Regions from separate parts of the Homo sapiens genome. Here region 2 is linked to region 1. The links come from fine-mapping of genetic effects on gene expression. A gene starts in region 1. The other region holds a variant in brackets. All regions are shown on one strand. Distances are between the middles of the regions.

Evidence for each region. PIP is the estimated chance that this variant, and not a neighbour inherited with it, causes the effect.
Region 2: its variant is the best candidate, but not a certain one, in a credible set for the expression of FOXK1 in whole blood (INTERVAL, PIP 0.61).

What each region holds. Positions count from the first base shown.
Region 1 is chr7:4,678,046-4,686,528 of GRCh38, reverse strand. It overlaps FOXK1 (forkhead box K1), which reads right to left and starts at 4,234. Exons shown (of 9, transcript NM_001037165.2): 1 at 3,661-4,234. The coding sequence starts at 4,220. RefSeq lists enhancers at 2,850-3,377, 4,237-4,531, 4,733-5,233 and silencers at 3,934-4,003, 4,154-4,523.
Region 2 is chr7:4,780,669-4,788,668 of GRCh38, reverse strand. It overlaps AP5Z1 (adaptor related protein complex 5 subunit zeta 1), which reads right to left. Exons shown (of 17, transcript NM_014855.3): 2 at 7,357-7,494; 3 at 6,915-7,101; 4 at 5,209-5,353; 5 at 4,871-4,980; 6 at 4,298-4,466; 7 at 3,621-3,761; 8 at 3,217-3,254; 9 at 2,985-3,147; 10 at 2,241-2,419; 11 at 893-1,035; 12 at 375-515. MIR4656 (microRNA 4656) reads left to right here and starts at 30; the gene lies at 30-104. The variant G/A (reference allele first, on the strand shown) is at 3,160.

The DNA of each region.
Region 1 (8,483 bases):
CCTGGGAGCTCTGGCGAGATGCTTACCCACCAGGCGTAGTGTCACCCAGTAGAGCAAGATCAGCTCTAAGCTGGGTCACAAGTCTTTTTTTTCCCCCACCAATAATTAAAAATATTGAAGATTTGGAATTACGTACTTCCAGTAACAAATAGGGGTTGAATTCTGGCATCCTTCCTGAGTGGGAGCTCTACTGGAAGTGTGTGTGGCATGTACCTGTCCCAAGGTGAAGAGGGTGGCCCCGGACAACACAGCTTTGGAAAATGGTGTGGGCACCAACACAACATAGACCTCCCACCAAATCCAAGCACGTCCAAGGCAATCACATTCCAACACAGCAAGAGAATCTGTAGTTTACAGTAAACAAATTCACAATTTCCAGTAGCAGTGGCAATACCAGGTACCAAAGCCGGAGAGAAAACAGACACAGTAATTCCTGACATTCGGTGATGAATTTCCCATTCAGGGTGACAAAAACTTACGCATCTAACTTCCTTGCGCTGAAATCCTTAAAATTTCTTAATGACTTTCAACATAATAGGCTTAAGAATCGTTTTTTGGTTTTTTTTTTTTCATTTTGTTTTTTATTGAGATGGAGTCTTGCTCTGTTGCCCAGGCTGGAGTGCAGTGGCGTGATCTCAGCTCACTGCAACCTCCACCTCCCGGGTTCAAGCGATTCTTCTGTCTCAGCCTCCCAAGTAGCTGGGACTACAGGCGTGATCCACCACGCCAAGCTAATTTTTGTATTTTTAGTAGAGACAGGGTTTTGCCACATTGGCCAGGGTGGTCTTGAACTCCTGAACTCAAGTGATCCACCCGCCTTGGCCTCCCAAAGTGCTGAGATTACAGGCGTGAGGCTGTAGTCCAGGCTTAAGAATCTTTACCTAACCAAATGTAGTCCAGGCTTAAGAATCTTTACCTAACCAAAAAAGTTTATGACAGCCTGTTCTACATATGTGACTACTTAGGTGTAAGTTTTCTAAAATTAAAAAAAAAAAAAAAAAAAGTGAGGCCGGGCGCAGGGGCTCACGCCTGTATGCCTGTAATCCCAGCACTTTGGGAAGCTAAGGCAGGCAGATCACGAGGTCAGGAGATCGAGACCATCTTGGCTAACACGGTGAAACCCCATCTCTACTAAAAATACAAAGAATTAGCTGGGCGTGGTGTTGTGCGCCTGTAGTCCCAGCCACTCAGGAGGCTGAGGCAGGAGAATCTCTTGAACCCGGGAGGTAGAGTTTGCAGTGAGCCACTGCACTCCAGTCTGGACAACAGAGCGAGACTCCATGACAGAAAAAAAAAAAAAAAAAAAAGCAAATAGCTCTTTTCTAGGAGGGTGGACATGGACATCCACTTAATGTTTTTCCTTCTGCACATTTGCTTTGTTCTTGTAAATTTTACATTGCTGCCTACATAGATATTGCTCACATGTGCAGGTGAAGTCAAATAAAAACAGACAGGCGCAGTGGGCCAAGCACTTCACGCACATCTAATGCACCAAGTCAGCGGGCGGGCATCTGTGTAGCCTGACAGCCCCACCACAATGCCTGGTAATGCACCCACCGAGAACACGAGCTCCCTGGAGCATAAATGTGCAAGGACTGTATACACCGATAACATTTCATAAATAACAGGCTTGCTACTGGCCTATTCGTAGACGATCTGAGGTTGAAATTTTTTCCCCTTGAATTACAAAAAAAAAATACCGTGAAAGCCTCCTTCAAGATTCACTAAAGCTGGGCCTGACTCAGGAGTGCACCTGTTTCCACGGCAGGGGCAGGAAACCTGAAAACAAGACTTTAATGGAAGTACTTAGTGAACCTGAGTTATATAAAGGTGCGTCTGTAAAGCAGGCCTCTAAGGGGGGCCTGGGGAGCCTACCTGTCATTTTCTTACTGGAGGGGAGAGTGGCCAGGAAATGCATTTAATGGCCCCAAACGGAGAGAGTGTATTGGTTATGGAAGAGAGAGAACACACTAATATCTGAGGCAAAGAACAAATTTGTTATCTCCTGAGTTCTGATTTTACCAAAATGCACACCTTTCAGCACGGTTAGAAAAAGGTATACTTCCCCTCTCACGCCCCAAGGGGGAGTGAGTCATTGTTGATGTTGCATTTTAAATTATTCAATGCGATATCTGTAACCAAACATGCCAAGACTAAAAAAGGGGAGAAGTTTACAGACACAAACTTTGGGCCCTGGGAATTACCCCAGCAAAAATTCCCCAGACGCAAGGCGTTTATAAAAGGGAGTAATTAGACAGACAACCCTGAACAAGAACCACATTGAAGAAATATAAACACTGGTGATGAGTTAGAGGCAATCACTAAATAGAAAAAGAAAGTGGCTCCAGAGGAAATGAGTAATTAAACAGGCTTTCTCCTGATCAACAGACCTTGAGGTCCGGGGCAGAGCAGAGGGTGCGGAGGGCAGTGGAGCTGGAAAGGAGGGAACCGGAATGGGCGGGAGGTGACCACGGGATGCTACCAAAGGCACCGACAGGCCTGGGCAGCCGTCCAGGCCCAGCTGGGTCTCTCTGCCCTGGTGACCTCGGGCCCGGGGGAATCTAATTTGATCTTGGGGTCCCGCTACTCCATCCAAGGAGCACTAGTTGGGGATGTAAACTGAGGCACAGGCTTCCTGTCCTCGCCCCTCCCCGCCAGGCCTCTGCTCCTTCAGCACAGCCCACACTCCTAGGGACCTCGCACTTCCCGGAGCAACACCCTCCCACTGTCCTGGGTGAGTGTGTTGGGGTCCCCCAGGACCCAGACTGGATGGGGTGGGGGTGGCCCAAGGGTCCAGACCAGACAGGGTCAGGGGTAGCCACTGGGGTCCAGGACGGCAGGCATCAGGCACTGGGGTGACTTGAGGCCCTGGCTGGTGGGGGTCGGGGGTGGTCCTGAGAACCAGGTCAGGCTGGGGTGACCCTGGAGTCCAAGCTGGTGGGGGTCCAGGGTGACCTGGAAGGGTTGAGGGTGATCCCCAGGCCCAGGCAGCAGGGACTGGGGTCAAGGTGACCTCAGTAACCCAGCTGGGTGGAGCTGGGGTGGGAGTGGCCCTGCGAGCCCAGGCTTGTGGGGTTAGCGGTCAGGGGTGACTCCGGGGGGGCCTAGGAAGTGGGGGTCGCGGTTAACCTTGCGTGTTTAGGCAGGGTAGGGACGTAGATGACCCCAGGGATCCAGGCCAGTGGGAGTTCAGAATGACCCCGGAGTCCAGGCCGATGGGAGCTGGGGAGCAGCAGGGATCTGGGTCAGGGGTCTAAGAGGCCCAGCCAGATGGGCTTGGGGTATGGGTGGCTCCAGGAGCCCAGGCCGGTGGGAGATGAGGTCAGGGGTGACCCCAGGAGCCGCAAGGTGTGGGTCAGGGCTGACCCCAGAGTCCAGGCCGGTGGGGGTCGGGGGCGACGGGGTATCCAGACCGGGGAAAGTGGAGGAGATCCTCAGGCTGGAGCCTCCAGGATCGGGGTCGGGGTGATCCTAGGGAGCCAGGAGGCGGGGGTCGGGGTTGACCCCGGAGTCCAGGCCGGTCGGGGGTTACCGGGGGTGGGCCGGGGGGTGGGGGTCGAGGCCGAGGAAGCTGGAGGGGGATCCCCAGGCCCGGGCCTCAGAGATCGAGGTCGTGGGCGAGCCCCGGGTGCGGGCGGCGGGGGTCGCGGGGCCACTCACTGCTTGGGCAGCTGCAGGGCGGGCGCGCCGCGTCTCTGGAAGGCCCCGTCCACGAAGACGCCGTTCTTGCCGAGGCAGCGCAGGTAGAAGTGCGGCTCCTGGAAGCTGAGCTGCAGGTGGCGCCGCGAGATGAAGCTGGACAGGCCCATGCTCAAGTCCACCGAGCCCTGCGACGAGTTGCGGCCGATGGTGACGCTGGGCTGGCGCATGAGGAACTCGAACTCGCGGCCCTCCAGCCGCGCCAGCGCCGGCCCCGGGCTCTGCCGTACCGAGGCGGCCGCCGCGGCCACCAGGGCCGGCGCCGCGCCCGCGACCGCGGAGTCCCCGGATACCCCGGAGGAGCCCCCGGAGGAGCCCGCGCCCGCGATCGCGCCCGGAGGCAGCGGCGGTGGCGGCGGCGGCGGCGGCCCGGGCGGAGGCTGGGGCTGCGCGGGGGCCGGCGGGGGTGCGGCCGCGGGGAAGGCGGCGGCGGCGGCTGCGGCGCACAGCACTGGGCTGCAGGGCGCCGAGCGCAGCGCGAGCAGGGCGCGGGCGCCGCTGTCCTCGCCGACTTCGGCCATGTTCGCGCGGCTCCGAGCGGCCTCCGGCGGCGGCGGCTGCAGCGGCGGCGCGGGGGGCGGGGAGGTCGGGGCGCTGGGCGGGCGCGGAAACCCGGGCCAGATCGCGCCGGCGCGGAGCGGAGCCTCCCAGCCCACCGTGCGCCTCGCCTCGCCCGCCCGCCGGTCCCGCCCAGCGTAGCCCACGTGGCGCGCGCCAGCGCGGGGCTGGGGGCGAGGCCTGTGCCGGGAGGGCCGGCGGGCCCCCGGGAGAGCTGGGCCCGGCGCACCTCGTCCCCTCCCCGCGGGGCTGCAGGCGGCGGGCGCCCTTTCCTCCATCCAGGGGGAAGAGGGGACCCCTGAAATGCCCAGCCACAAAGTTTTGAGCCTGGGTCATTGGAGAAAGGGACGGATGACCTCAGCAGTCTCCCCGCCCCAGACACTCCAGGCCCCCAACCCTAAAGTGTAAGATAGACAGAAGATAAAATATATGTGTATTATATACAATACATATGTTTATATTCTAACCTCGCTCTGTCGCCCAGGCTGCAGTGCGGTGGCAAAATCATAGCTCACTGCAGCTTCCACCTCCTGTGCCCAAGTCACCCTCCTGCCTCTGCCTCACAAGTGCCACCACGCCCAGCTAATTTTTTTACTTCTTATAGAGACAGGGTCTTGCTATGTTGGCCAGGCTGGTCTCAAACTCCTGGTCTCAAGTGATCTATCTATCTCGACCTCCCAAAGCACTGGGATTACCCGTGTGAGCCACAGTGCCAGGCCTGATCATTCTTAAGCCCTCAGATTAAAGGTCATCATACTCTACTGTAACTGAAGACCACTTGAGATCCATCCCTGAATCCCTGATCCATCCTTCCTTCCTTCTTTCCTTCCTTCCTTCCTTCCCTTCCTTCCCTTCATTCCTTCCCTTCCCTTCATTCCTTCCTTCCCTCCCTTCTTTCCTTCCTTCCTTCCTTCCCTTCCTCCCTCCCTTCCCTTCCTCTCCTTCTTTCCCTTCCCTTCCTTCCTTTCCTTCCTTCCTTCCCTCCCTCTCTTCCTTCCTCCCTCCCTTTCCTTCCTTCCTTTCCTTTCCTTCCTTCCTTTCCTTCCTTCCTTCCCTCCCTCCCTTCTTTCCTTCCTTCCTTCCCTTCCTCCCTCCCTTCCCTTCCTCTCCTTCCTTCCCTTCCCTTCCTTCCTTTCCTTCCCTTCCTTCCTTTCCTTTCCTTCCTTCCTTCCTTTCCTTCCTTCCCTCCCTCCCTTCCTCCCTCCATTTCCTTCCTTCCTTTCCTTCCTTCCTTCCTTCCTCCTTTCCTTCCTTCCTTCCTTTCTTTCTTCCCTTCCTTCCTTCCTTCTTTTTTTTTTTTTTTGAGACGGAGTTTCGCTCTTGTTGCCCAGGCTGTAGTGCAATGGCGCAATCTCGACTCAACGCAACCTCCACCCCCTGGATTCAAGCAATTCTCCTGCCTCAGCCTCCCAAGTAGCTGGGATTACAGTCATGTACCACCAGGCCCGGCTCATTTTGTATTTTTTTAGTAGAGATGGGGTTTCTCCGTGTTGGTCAGACTAGTCCTGAAAACCCGACCTCAGGTGATCTGCCCGCCTCAGCCTCCCAAAGTCCTGGGATTACAGGCGGGAGCCACCGTGCCCGGCCGCCTGCCTGCCTTCCTTCCTTCCTTCCTTCCTTCCTTCCTTCCTTCCTTCCTTCCTTCCTTCCTTTCTTTCCCTCCCTCCCTCCCTTCCTTCCTTCTCTCTCTTTCTTGTCTTTTTCTTTTGAGACAGGGTCTCACTCTGTCACCCAGGCTGGAGTGCAGTGGTACAATCATAGCTCACTGCAGCCTCAACCTTCAGGGCTCAGGTGATTTTCCCACCTCACCCTCCCAAGTAGCTGGGACTATGAGCCACCATGCCCGACTAATTTTTAATTTTTTTTTTTTTTAAGGCAGAGTCTTAATCTGTCACCCAGGCTGGAGTGTAATGGTGCAGTCTCGGCTCACTGCAACCGATTCTCCTGCCTCAGCCTCCCAAGTCGCTGGGATTACAGGCATCTGCCACCACACCCAGCTAATTTTTGTATTTTTAGTAGAGACGGGGTTTCAACCATGTTGGTGAAGCTGGTCTCAAACTCCTGACCTCAGGTGATCCACCTGCCTCGACCTCCTAAAGTGCTGGGGCTGCAGGCGGGAGCCGCCTCACCTGGCCTTTTTCAATTTTTTTATAGAGACAGGGTCTCATTATATTGCCCAAGTTGGTGTTCAACTTTGGGGCTCAAGCAGTCTGCCACCTCAGCCTCCCCAAATGCTGGGTTACAGGCGTGAGCCACCACGCCCAGCCTATCTCTCTTTCTTTCTGGAGCCCTTCACTCATTCAATATGCTAGATCCAGCTAAGACAGATCTGAGAGAATGCCCCAGAGAGAAATCTTAGCTGAAAACAGGGAGTGGCAAACGTGGGCATCATTGGGATCCCTTTCGGACTTCAGTAGCCTGGTCCTCCATTGCCAGTTCAGGTTCCCCTAAAAAGGCGGTGCAGTTTCCACATTTCCCTCATTTACGAATTATTAAGGGTGGGAAAGGAGACACAGTTCCCTCCCTGGTGGAGCTTATAGTTGAGGGGGAGATGCAGACATAAATCAAAGACACATCCTAGAAAAAGTAAAATCAAGTCACAGCTGTGATACATCCGGTGAGGGACTGGTGCATGGTGACGTGCAAGTGTAAACGAGAGACTGGGCCTGTCTAAGGCAGGAGCTTCCCTGACCTGCACACCCACGCTCCAGTCTGGGGCTGAAATAGGTATTAATCTCATCTCTCAGCCTTGAATATGTGCATGCAGAGATAAGTGTTTGGGAGGCAAGGAAAGCTTTTTTTTTTTTTTTTTTTTTTTTTTTTTGAGACAGAGTCTCGCTCTGTTGCCAAGCTAGAGTGCAGTGGTGCGATCTCGGCTCACTGCAACCTCTGCCTCCAGGGTTCAAGCAATCCTCCTGCCTCAGCCTCCCAAGTAACTGGTACTACAGGTGTGTGCCACCATGCCCAGGTAATTTTTGTATTTTTAGTAGAGATGGGGTTTCACCAGGTTGGCCAGGGTTGTCTCGATCTCTTGACCTCATGATCCACCTGCCTCGGACTCCCAAAGTGCTGGGGTTACAGGCGTCAGCCACCGTGACCGGCCAAGGAACGCATTTTTAGCAGGAGCAGTAACTTGAGTACCTGCTTGATTGAGGTGGGGGGGATGGTAAACAGAGTCAGGGGGCTCCTCCTTGAGGTCTAAGGGATGCCTGATTAGGGAAGTGGTGTGAGACTGTGAGGGTAGTGCCCCTGCCAGGGAACTCTGTGTGATACAGAAGGAAGTATGGGCCGTGGAGGGGTAGGCAGGTGGTCACTGTGTGTGGAACCGAGTGGCCATGTTCAGCTGAACCAGGAGGGAAGAAGGGCTGAGGTGGGTCCTATAGGATCTGGGGCTGATCCTAGAGCAATGGGAAGCCACTGAGGGGCTTTACGTGCAAGACAGCAGGCACACCGACATGCAGTATCTGAAATGCAATCACTCTAGCGGCCATGGGGATCCTGAACTGGAAATAGGTCAGAGTGATGGCGGAGGTTGCTCAGGAAGCTGGAGACCAGCGAGAGAGGTGAAAGGAGAGAGGTGCAGAGAAGCAGAGGGATGCAGGAGATACTGATTTCCTGCAAAGGCATTTACACACACTGTTGGTGGGAATGGAACACAGGGCAGCCTCTGTGGGAAACAGCATGCAGGGTCCTCAAAAAGTTAAAACGAGGCCGGGCCCAGTGGCTCTCACCTGTAATCCCAGCACTTTGAGAGGCTCAGATGGGTGATCACCTGAGGTTAGGAGTTTCAGACCAGCCTGGCCAACACGGTGAAACCCTGTCACTACCAAAAATACAAAAAAATGAGCCAGGCGTGGTGGTGGGCACCTGTCCCAGCCGCTCGGGAGGCTAAGGCATGAGGATTGCTTGAACCTGGAAGGCAGAGGTTGCAGTGATCTGAGATCATGCCATTGCGCTCCAGTCTGGGTGACAGAGCGAAGCTCTGTCTCAATAAATAAACGAATAAATAAATAAATAAACAAACTAGAGTTCCCATAAGATGCAATGCAGACTTCCACTTCTGGGTTTATACCCCCAAAGAATTGCAAGCAGGGTCTTGAAGAGATACTTGCATGCTATGTTCACAGCAGCGTTATTTATTCACGAGATCCAGAAGGTGGAAGCAATCCAAGTGTGCGTTTACCCCTGTGGTACCACATACAGTGGGGTATGATTCAGACTTGAAA
Region 2 (8,000 bases), 100 kb before region 1:
CACCCGGGACAGTAAAGCCATCGGGACAAAGGCTGGCGTGGGCTGAGGGCAGGAGGCCTGTGGCCGGTCCCAGGCCTCCTGCTTCCTGGGCTCAGGCTCGGTTTGTCCATCTGCAAAATGGAGCACCCACAGGGCCAACCTCCAAGCTTATGAGGGTTGATGTGGGCAGCAGAGAGAGCTGAGACCAGGCCCCGCCCCCGGCAGACCCGTGGTGCAGAAGCAGGGCCTCTATAATGGTGATGACGGGGACGCAGCCTTGTGTGGGACACAAAGCACCCTGGCCTCAGCCTAGGGCTGAGCAGTGAGCCCCACCCCAGTGGCTGTGGCCGGGCTCTCTGAGCCACTGGTGGCCCCCTGGCCCTAGGGCCCCGTACCTCTCAGTGGCGCCACTGGCCTTGGGGCGCAGCAGGTATTGGAAAAGACCCTGGAACTGCGGGTCCCGGAAGGCCTCCAGGCAGCTGGGGGCCCTGAGAGAGGTGTCCCAGAGTGGCCTCTCGGATGCAGCCGGTGCTGACCTGCGTGGACAGACGCCCAAGGCCAGGCTGGGATGCGGCCCCTGCACTCAAGGGCACCCCCGTCAGGGAGACACACGGCAGGTGTCCCTAATATCACAGCACCTCGGGTGCCAGGAAGGGCTTGGCATGGGAGGCTCCAGGCCTGGGCGTGAAGACGGGTGAGGCACTCCAGGGTGCAGGGGCTGCCCTTGGCAAGTGGCCAAGGGTGACAGACACACCCTGTCCTAGAGGTGGCTTTGCAGGGGAGGACTGGTCAGGTGTTGGGGGGGGAAGAAGGAGGGTCCCCGGTGTAGGGGTCAGGAGCAGCGAGGAGGGGGCCCAGTGTGTGGAACCAGCTGGCTGGGAGACGCAGCGCTGGCAGAGGGTGAGGGGCCCACCTGAGCTGCAGGTCCAGCACCGCCGTCAAGCAGGGCAGGTCCAGCAGCGCGTGCAGCATCTCCAGGGCTGTGCCAGCGTCCACCAGGGCCGGGAGGAGCGCCACAAACTCGGAGGTGAGGGGTGGGCTGTTCCAGGCCAGGAACTGTGGGCACAGCACAGCGGTTCGGACACGGCTCGGAGCTGTGGAGCAGGCGGCAGAGGGAGGAGCCAGCTAGGGCCCCACAGCTGTCCCAGACCTGCAGTCCCCAGGAGGGCTTCTACCTTTGCCTCCTCCCGCTTTTTATTTTTTTGAGACAGGGTCTTGCTCTGTCGCCCAGGCTGGAGTGCAGTGGTGCAATCATAGCTCACTGCAACCTCAACCTCCCAGGCTCAAGTGATCCTCCCACCTCAGCCTCCTGAGCAGCTGAGACTACAGGCACACACCACCATGTGAGGCTGTTTACTTTTTGTAGACAAGAGGTCTCCCTGTGTTGCCCAGGCTGGTCTTGAACTCCTGGCCTCAAGATCCTCCTGCCTTGGCCTCCCGAGGTGCTGGGATTACAGGTGTGAGCCACTGCCCCCAGCCTGTATCTACTTTCGTACCAACAGGTCAATAATTTTCCACTGTCCTGGTTTTTCTCCAGAAAGAGGATTCCCCACCTCAGTTGAAAAGACCTTACAGCGAGGCGAGGCTGCAAAAGACACTTCAAAAGCAAATGGCACCAGGCCGGGTGCGGTGGCTCATGCCTGTAATCCCAGCACTTTGGGAGGTCAAGGCAGGAGGATCATCTGAGGTCAGGAGTTCGAGACCAGCCTGGCCAACATGTCGAAACCCCATCTCTACTAAAAATACCAAAAATTAGCTGGACATGGTGGTGGGTGCCTGTAATCTCAACTACTCAGGTGGCTGACGCAGGAGAATCGCTTGAACCCAGGAGGCGGGGGTTGCAGTGAGCTGAGATTGCGCCACTGCACTCCAGCCTAGGTGACAGGAATGAGACTCCATCTCAAAAGAAAAAAAAAAGGCAAATGGCACCCAAGTGCCCAAGGCACCAGGCAGGGCTCCCGGGGGAGGGATCCTACCAGGCAGCAGCCCTGCCCCAGTGCTGTGAGAACAAACTCACCGTCTTGTGTCACAGCCCCCTCTCCAAAACACCCACAAGGGAGTTCTTGGACAGCACCGTCAATCACGTGACGCTGCAGGGACACCCCAGATCCCCACCTCACCCTGCACACCGCATTCCAGGCCCGGGACTCACAGGGCTCTATGCTCAGCCAGGACTCGCCCTGAACCCCGCTGGAAAGAGGGGAGGAGCCCCAGGGACTTACCATGCCCCTGCCCTGGCACCCAGGGATGCCCAAATATACCTTAAAGAGGTTGGGGAAGCTCAATCTGAGGGTGCTGAGGTGCCCGCTGAACAGGTGGAGGTTGTCCCTGCAGAACTGGATGAATTCAAAGGCCAGCATGGGGCTGTGGAACTGCTCCACCGGGATCCTGGTGAACAGGTGCTGGTAGACGGCTTCCGAGTCCACTGCAGCCGCTTCCCCTGCAAGACCAGGGCCCGCCAGGGCACACGTCTTGACCTCGCCCTGGCCGTGCTTCTGTGACTGGTTAGGGGCCCTGAGTCTCAGGCCTGCTCTCCAGGACACCAAGGGCTCCGAGGCGTCCTACGCTGGGACGCTGGGGAAGCGGCACTTGGTCTCCCTCGCCCAGGGACACGGACAGCTCGTGAGTCACACACACTATGGCACATTCTTTGGAAGGTGCTGGTTCCTAGACTTTCAGGTTTCCTGGGCTAGGGACACAGCAAAAAGAGTCTGTTTATTTCTCTATTTAAAAGTTTAAAAATTACCAACATCTGGCACAGCAATCCATCAAAAAGAAATATGAGCTGGGCACGGTGGCTCATGCCCGTAATCCCAGCACTTTGGGAGGCCAAGGCAGGAGGATCGCTTGAGGCCACGAGTTCCAGACCAGCCTGGGCAACACAGCAAGACCCCTGTCTCTATTCAATCAAAAAAAAAAAAAAAAAAAAGGGAAGAAGAAATTCCATCCTAAAACTAAAGGCAGAAGCAGAGCCCCGAGTCAGCGCCACCCCACCCTGGGCTCACCGTGGCTCAGGAAGAAGTGGGCGAGGGGCAGCAGCACCCGCACAGAGGCCGGGTCCCCGCGCACCCGCCCGTGCAGGGCCTTCAGGCAGGAGAGACTTCGGTACAGGAAGGACGGGTCCTGCCGGCACAGCACGTCCAGCACCAGCACGGCCTCCACCAGGCACTGCGGGACATG[G/A]ACCACATCAAATGGGCCGAGTCGCTGCCTCCCATCCCCTGGTCCCCAGCCACTTACAGCTTTCTGCAGGTCGGAGTCCCCCTTCCTCAGGGCTCCTGGAAGGAGGGGAAAAAGTCAGCCGGCTCTGTCTCAGCCTTAGAGTGGCCCAATGAGGGGGCAGCTTGTGCTCTGGAAGCTCCAGGCAGGACCGGGAGCAGGGGGGTGGGACAGGCCCCCAGGAGGACTTGAGTGGGACTGAGGCGAGGGGCCCAGGTGGGACAGGGCCGGGCTGGGGGCTGGGGTGGAGCCTGAAGAACACTTGGGGCTGACCCCAGAAGCAAAAATGCCCCTGCTCCAAACCGGCTACCCAGGGACCCCCTCTGTGGAGCAGTAGCTCAGGGAAGCTGTGCTGGCCTCAGGTGGCCTTGCAGAGCAGGTGCGTCGAGCCCTGGGGAGGCCAGTGCCCTGGGTGGGGGACTCACGTCGGTTACTTTGCTCAATGAGGCGCTGGCAGTACTCGAAGGCCACCTCCCGAAGCCGCTCCCGGGGCGGCAGCAGGCGGCCGGCAGAGGAGGTGGCGGAGATCACCGACAGAGTGGAGCCCTCCTGCTCTGACCTGTCATCTGCGGGAGGTGGGAACTCTCAGCAGGCTGACGTGTGGCTCCCGGGCTGGGACATGCCTGCTGCCCTGCTTGGAAGGGCAGGAGGAGAGCACAGGCCGCAGCCCCTCCCGGGAGGCGTGAGGCGTCACCGTCTCAGGACGTCCACCCACCCGGCAGCTTCCCCATCACGGCCGCCCTTCAGGGTGGCTGAGGCTTCTTCCCCAACAAGTCCACAGAGCAGCCGGGAGGAGCTCAGTGGCGTCACTCCAACAACCTTAAGGGTGCCTGCCTTAAGTGGGAGCTCTCACATCTGCACATTGCATGAGGGTCACGGGGTGTCCAGAGGATCCCCGGTGCTGACCCTGGACCCCAAAGATGCTGGCCAGGGAGTGCTCTCCGCCTAGCTCCAGGTCAGCAGGCTGCGTTGCTCAGTCCTGACCTCTGCTGCATCCTGGGCACACCCGAGTCCCCCCACCTCCGCCCGTGTCCCCCTGCGACCAACCCATAGTGCGCCCACCTCCCACCCCTGTCTGACGTCATCCCCCCACCCCGCACACCTGTGTCCAGGGTGCCCGGGCCCTCGGGGCCGCTGTGCAGCAGCCACGCCCGCAGCATAGAGAAGGCCTGCACGTTCAGCCACTGGTCGTCTGTGAAGCGGTGGCCGCTGGAGAGCACCGTGAAGAAGTCTGTGGCTACCGCCCCGTCCACCTCGGTGACGGGGCCCGGCTGTGGGAAGGACAGGCAGGAGTGGGCGGAGGGGGCCGAGGCCGGGAAAAACGCCAGCCTTTAGCACAAGCTCCTCAGGAGGTGGAGGAGAAGCTGCCTGAACATGAGCCCGGGCAGCGGCCCGCCCTGTGTGATGCAAAAACACCATCCCCACCTGACCCCCAGGCAGACGCGCGTCGCACACCCTGCTCCGCAGGCCCTGGGACTGAACCCGCGCACAGACCCCCAGAGCCACACGGGTCAGGGGGCTGTGGCCCTGCCTGACCCAAGCCCCGCAGCAGAGGCAGGCTCGTCCTGGACCCCGCGGAACGACAGCAGGCCTCGCCGCTGTGGGCACAGGAGCTCTCAGGGAGGGGTTGTCTGTGACTCTGTTCCCCATGGTTCCAGAACAGTCCCAGCCTCACCTGCCGGGCCCTGGGCGTGGAGAAGAAGCCGCCGGAGTGTGGGAGCCCTTGCTGGAGGCTGGCGTAGCGCAGCCAGTCGACCAGCCGCTTGCTGAGCAGGGTGGCCTGGTCTGCAGTGGGTGGGGTGGCATGGGGAGGTGAGGTTGAATCCTACAGATGCCTGGGTTGTTGGGATGCTGGCCGACTTTTCTCAGAAAACAGAATCCTGCAGCGTCCCAAACCCTCGGGCCTCCCCGTGTCCCCCACCTGCCCCCCACACTCCCAACCCACCATGGGCCCTCAGGGAAGGACCTGGGAAGGCAGACCCCCAACAGCCTCTTGGGAGGGGCCCCGCGTACCCTCCTGGAGGGTGCCCGGGCTGAGGACCACGACCTTGGCCATGACGGGGAGGAGGTGTCTGAGGCTGGGTCCCTCAGGCTGCCGGCTCTCCAGCGCTCGTAGCACGCCCTGGCCCACGGCTCTGACCTCCTCGTTTCTGTCACCCTTCAAATCAAACAGGGCAAACGCTGGGGTACTGGCCTGTGCCAGAGACCAGCTCCCCCATTTCGGAAGTCTGTGTGACACTCCTGAGAAGCGTCGGTCGCTGAGACCCCGGCCTAGCAGGTGGCAGGGAGGATGTCCCGCGCAGGCCCACCCCGGGCCACAAGGTGCCTGCTCCGCCTCCAGCCTCTCTCCCTGGGAGCTGCATCGCTGAGGCTGGAGGGGGCCTGGGTGAGGGCACGGCTGATTCAATGCTAAAAACACACTGGCGGCCACCATGGCCCTGGCCGCAGACACAGGACACCCCGTCCTGCGGGGCCTCCAGTGTGGATCCCAGTCTTTAAACCACCCACCTCACTCTGCACACCCAGGTGCTGAAACATCTGAGCAGCACCAGAGACACCCAGCACAGGGGCAGGGCCGTCAGGGCAGGGAGGAGGGCGGCTGGGTGGCTGGGAGGCCACGTGCCGGGCGGGGGGTGCACCGCTGGCGCCTGGCAGCAGTTCTGCAAGATCATCTTCCACTGAAAAAAATGAGTTGCTTGAGGAGAAGGGCGGGTGAAACAAACAAGAAGAGCCGGAGTCATCTTGTTCCAAAGGCCAGGAGCTACCACAGCATTACCGGGGTCATCTCGGAGGCCTGGAGGTGGCCTGCAGGAGGTCTGTGAGGTGAGGGGGCTGGGCACCAACCAGGATGACCCCAGTGATGAAGTACAACGCCCTGAGTACGCCGGGGCCCACAAGCTCTCGCCCACACAGAACTAAAGCAACCGCAGGCTGCACCCCAGCACAGGAGGCAACTCATGACGCTGCAGGCTGGGAACGGAGGGAAAAGCCCAGCTCCATCGCAACCTTCCTGCAGACTCTGCACCCCTGGGCAACCCATGAGCAGAGATAGCAGCTTCTCTCACACAAAGGCAGCCTGTGAACCCCTGGATCCCCACGCTGAGTGCCCAGGCCTGCTCCCGACACAGAGGGAGGGAGGACATGGACTTGGCAAAAACTCCTGGCCAAGGAGGGTGGATTGCTTGAGCCCAGAAGTTTGAGACCAGCCTGGGCAACATAGTGAGACCCCAGGTCCCTACAAAAAAATACAAACATTAACTGGGTGTGGTGATGCATGCCTGTAATCCCAGCTACTCAGGAGGCTGAGATGGGAGGATTGCTTGAGCCAGGGAGGTCGAGGCTGCAGTGAGCATTGATCACTCCATGGCACTCTACACTGGACAGCAGAGTGAGACCCTGTTTCTAAAAAACAAAACAAAAACCCCAAAAAGAAGGTCTGGAGGCCCAGCCTCCACTGACTCGCTGTCTCAAGGCTCTGTCTGAGAAACCAAACTCCACCACCTCTCCTGAGCACCAACATACCACGTGGGCCTGCTGGGCATGGGACCCCGTTCCAGTCAACAGGGCATGCCCCAGCCTCAAGTGTGCCAGGCACTCAGCACCGAGATGCGTCTACAACAAGCAGCCACCTGCCGGCTCTGGCGCCCCTGCTTCCTGTCTCCCCTGTTCCTTGGGAAGCAGCCATCCGGTGCCAACTGGGGTGGTGACTGCTGCGCTACCTGGGCCAAGAGAACGGAGGCCACCAGGCTCAGCTGCCGGCTGTTCTGCGTGTGGTCCCAGGCCAGGCTGAGGCTGTCAGAGGGGGACATCTCTCGCAGGATGGCGGCGCAAAGCACCTGGAGCTGCTCGGGGCATGCAGGCAGGCCGAGGGTGGCCTGCAGCAGGTCTACGCATGTCTTCTCCAGCCTGGAAGGCGAGATGCCCGTGGTGGGCGGTAACACGTCACGACCGTGGCAGGAGCACCCGGTGCCCCAGAGCACCTGGCCGGGCACCCTTGGGCCAGTGGACAGAGCATTTTACATGAGGATGGACCTTCAGCACTGGTTTAAGTGGACAAATGACTCAACCCCCAAGGAGCATCTGCAGTGACCTGCTGGGCGTGGGCTGGGTTCTCCTGGGGCCGCTGTGTGAGGAGCCGGCCTGAGCCGTCGCCACACTCACCTCCGGCTGTACTTCGTGGCTGAGATGATGAGGAAGAGCCTCTGCAGGGAGTCGAGGGTGTCCGGCCCCAAGTCCTCCGCCTGCAGCAGTTTACAGATCCGGGAACAGAACTTCTTCAGCTCCTCGTCCTGGATCTCCCTAAACAAAGAAGAGGACTTCAGGACCCAGAAGCACTCGCTGCTCGGAACCAAAAAAAGGATAACCCTTGGAGCAGGGAAAATCCCTCTTTAGAAAAGAGAAGCCGAGTGTGTGGAGGAACACGGTTCCACGGCTCATGGCTCTCGAGATAAATTCGCTGATTCCCTGAGCTGGTTCCTCTCACCCTGGGATTTCCCGATCCATCGCTGCAGCGCACTATGACGAATCTCACTCACGGAGGCCCCATGCACTTAGATTTTCTTGTTCCCAGGGCAGAAGGACTAAAACCGATTCTTTTTAGGGGTCTCATTCAAGAGTAGGAAATTTACTCTAGAATAAGGTGCCTTTCAAAAGATGTCTTCAATGAGCCTTTTGCTTATGGAAACAAGAATAAATTTTTTTTTTCCCCGAGATGGAGTCTTGCTCTGTCACCCGGGCTGGAATATAGTGTCATGATCTCGGCTCACTGCAACCTTCGCCTCCGGGGTTCAAGCAATTCTCCTGCC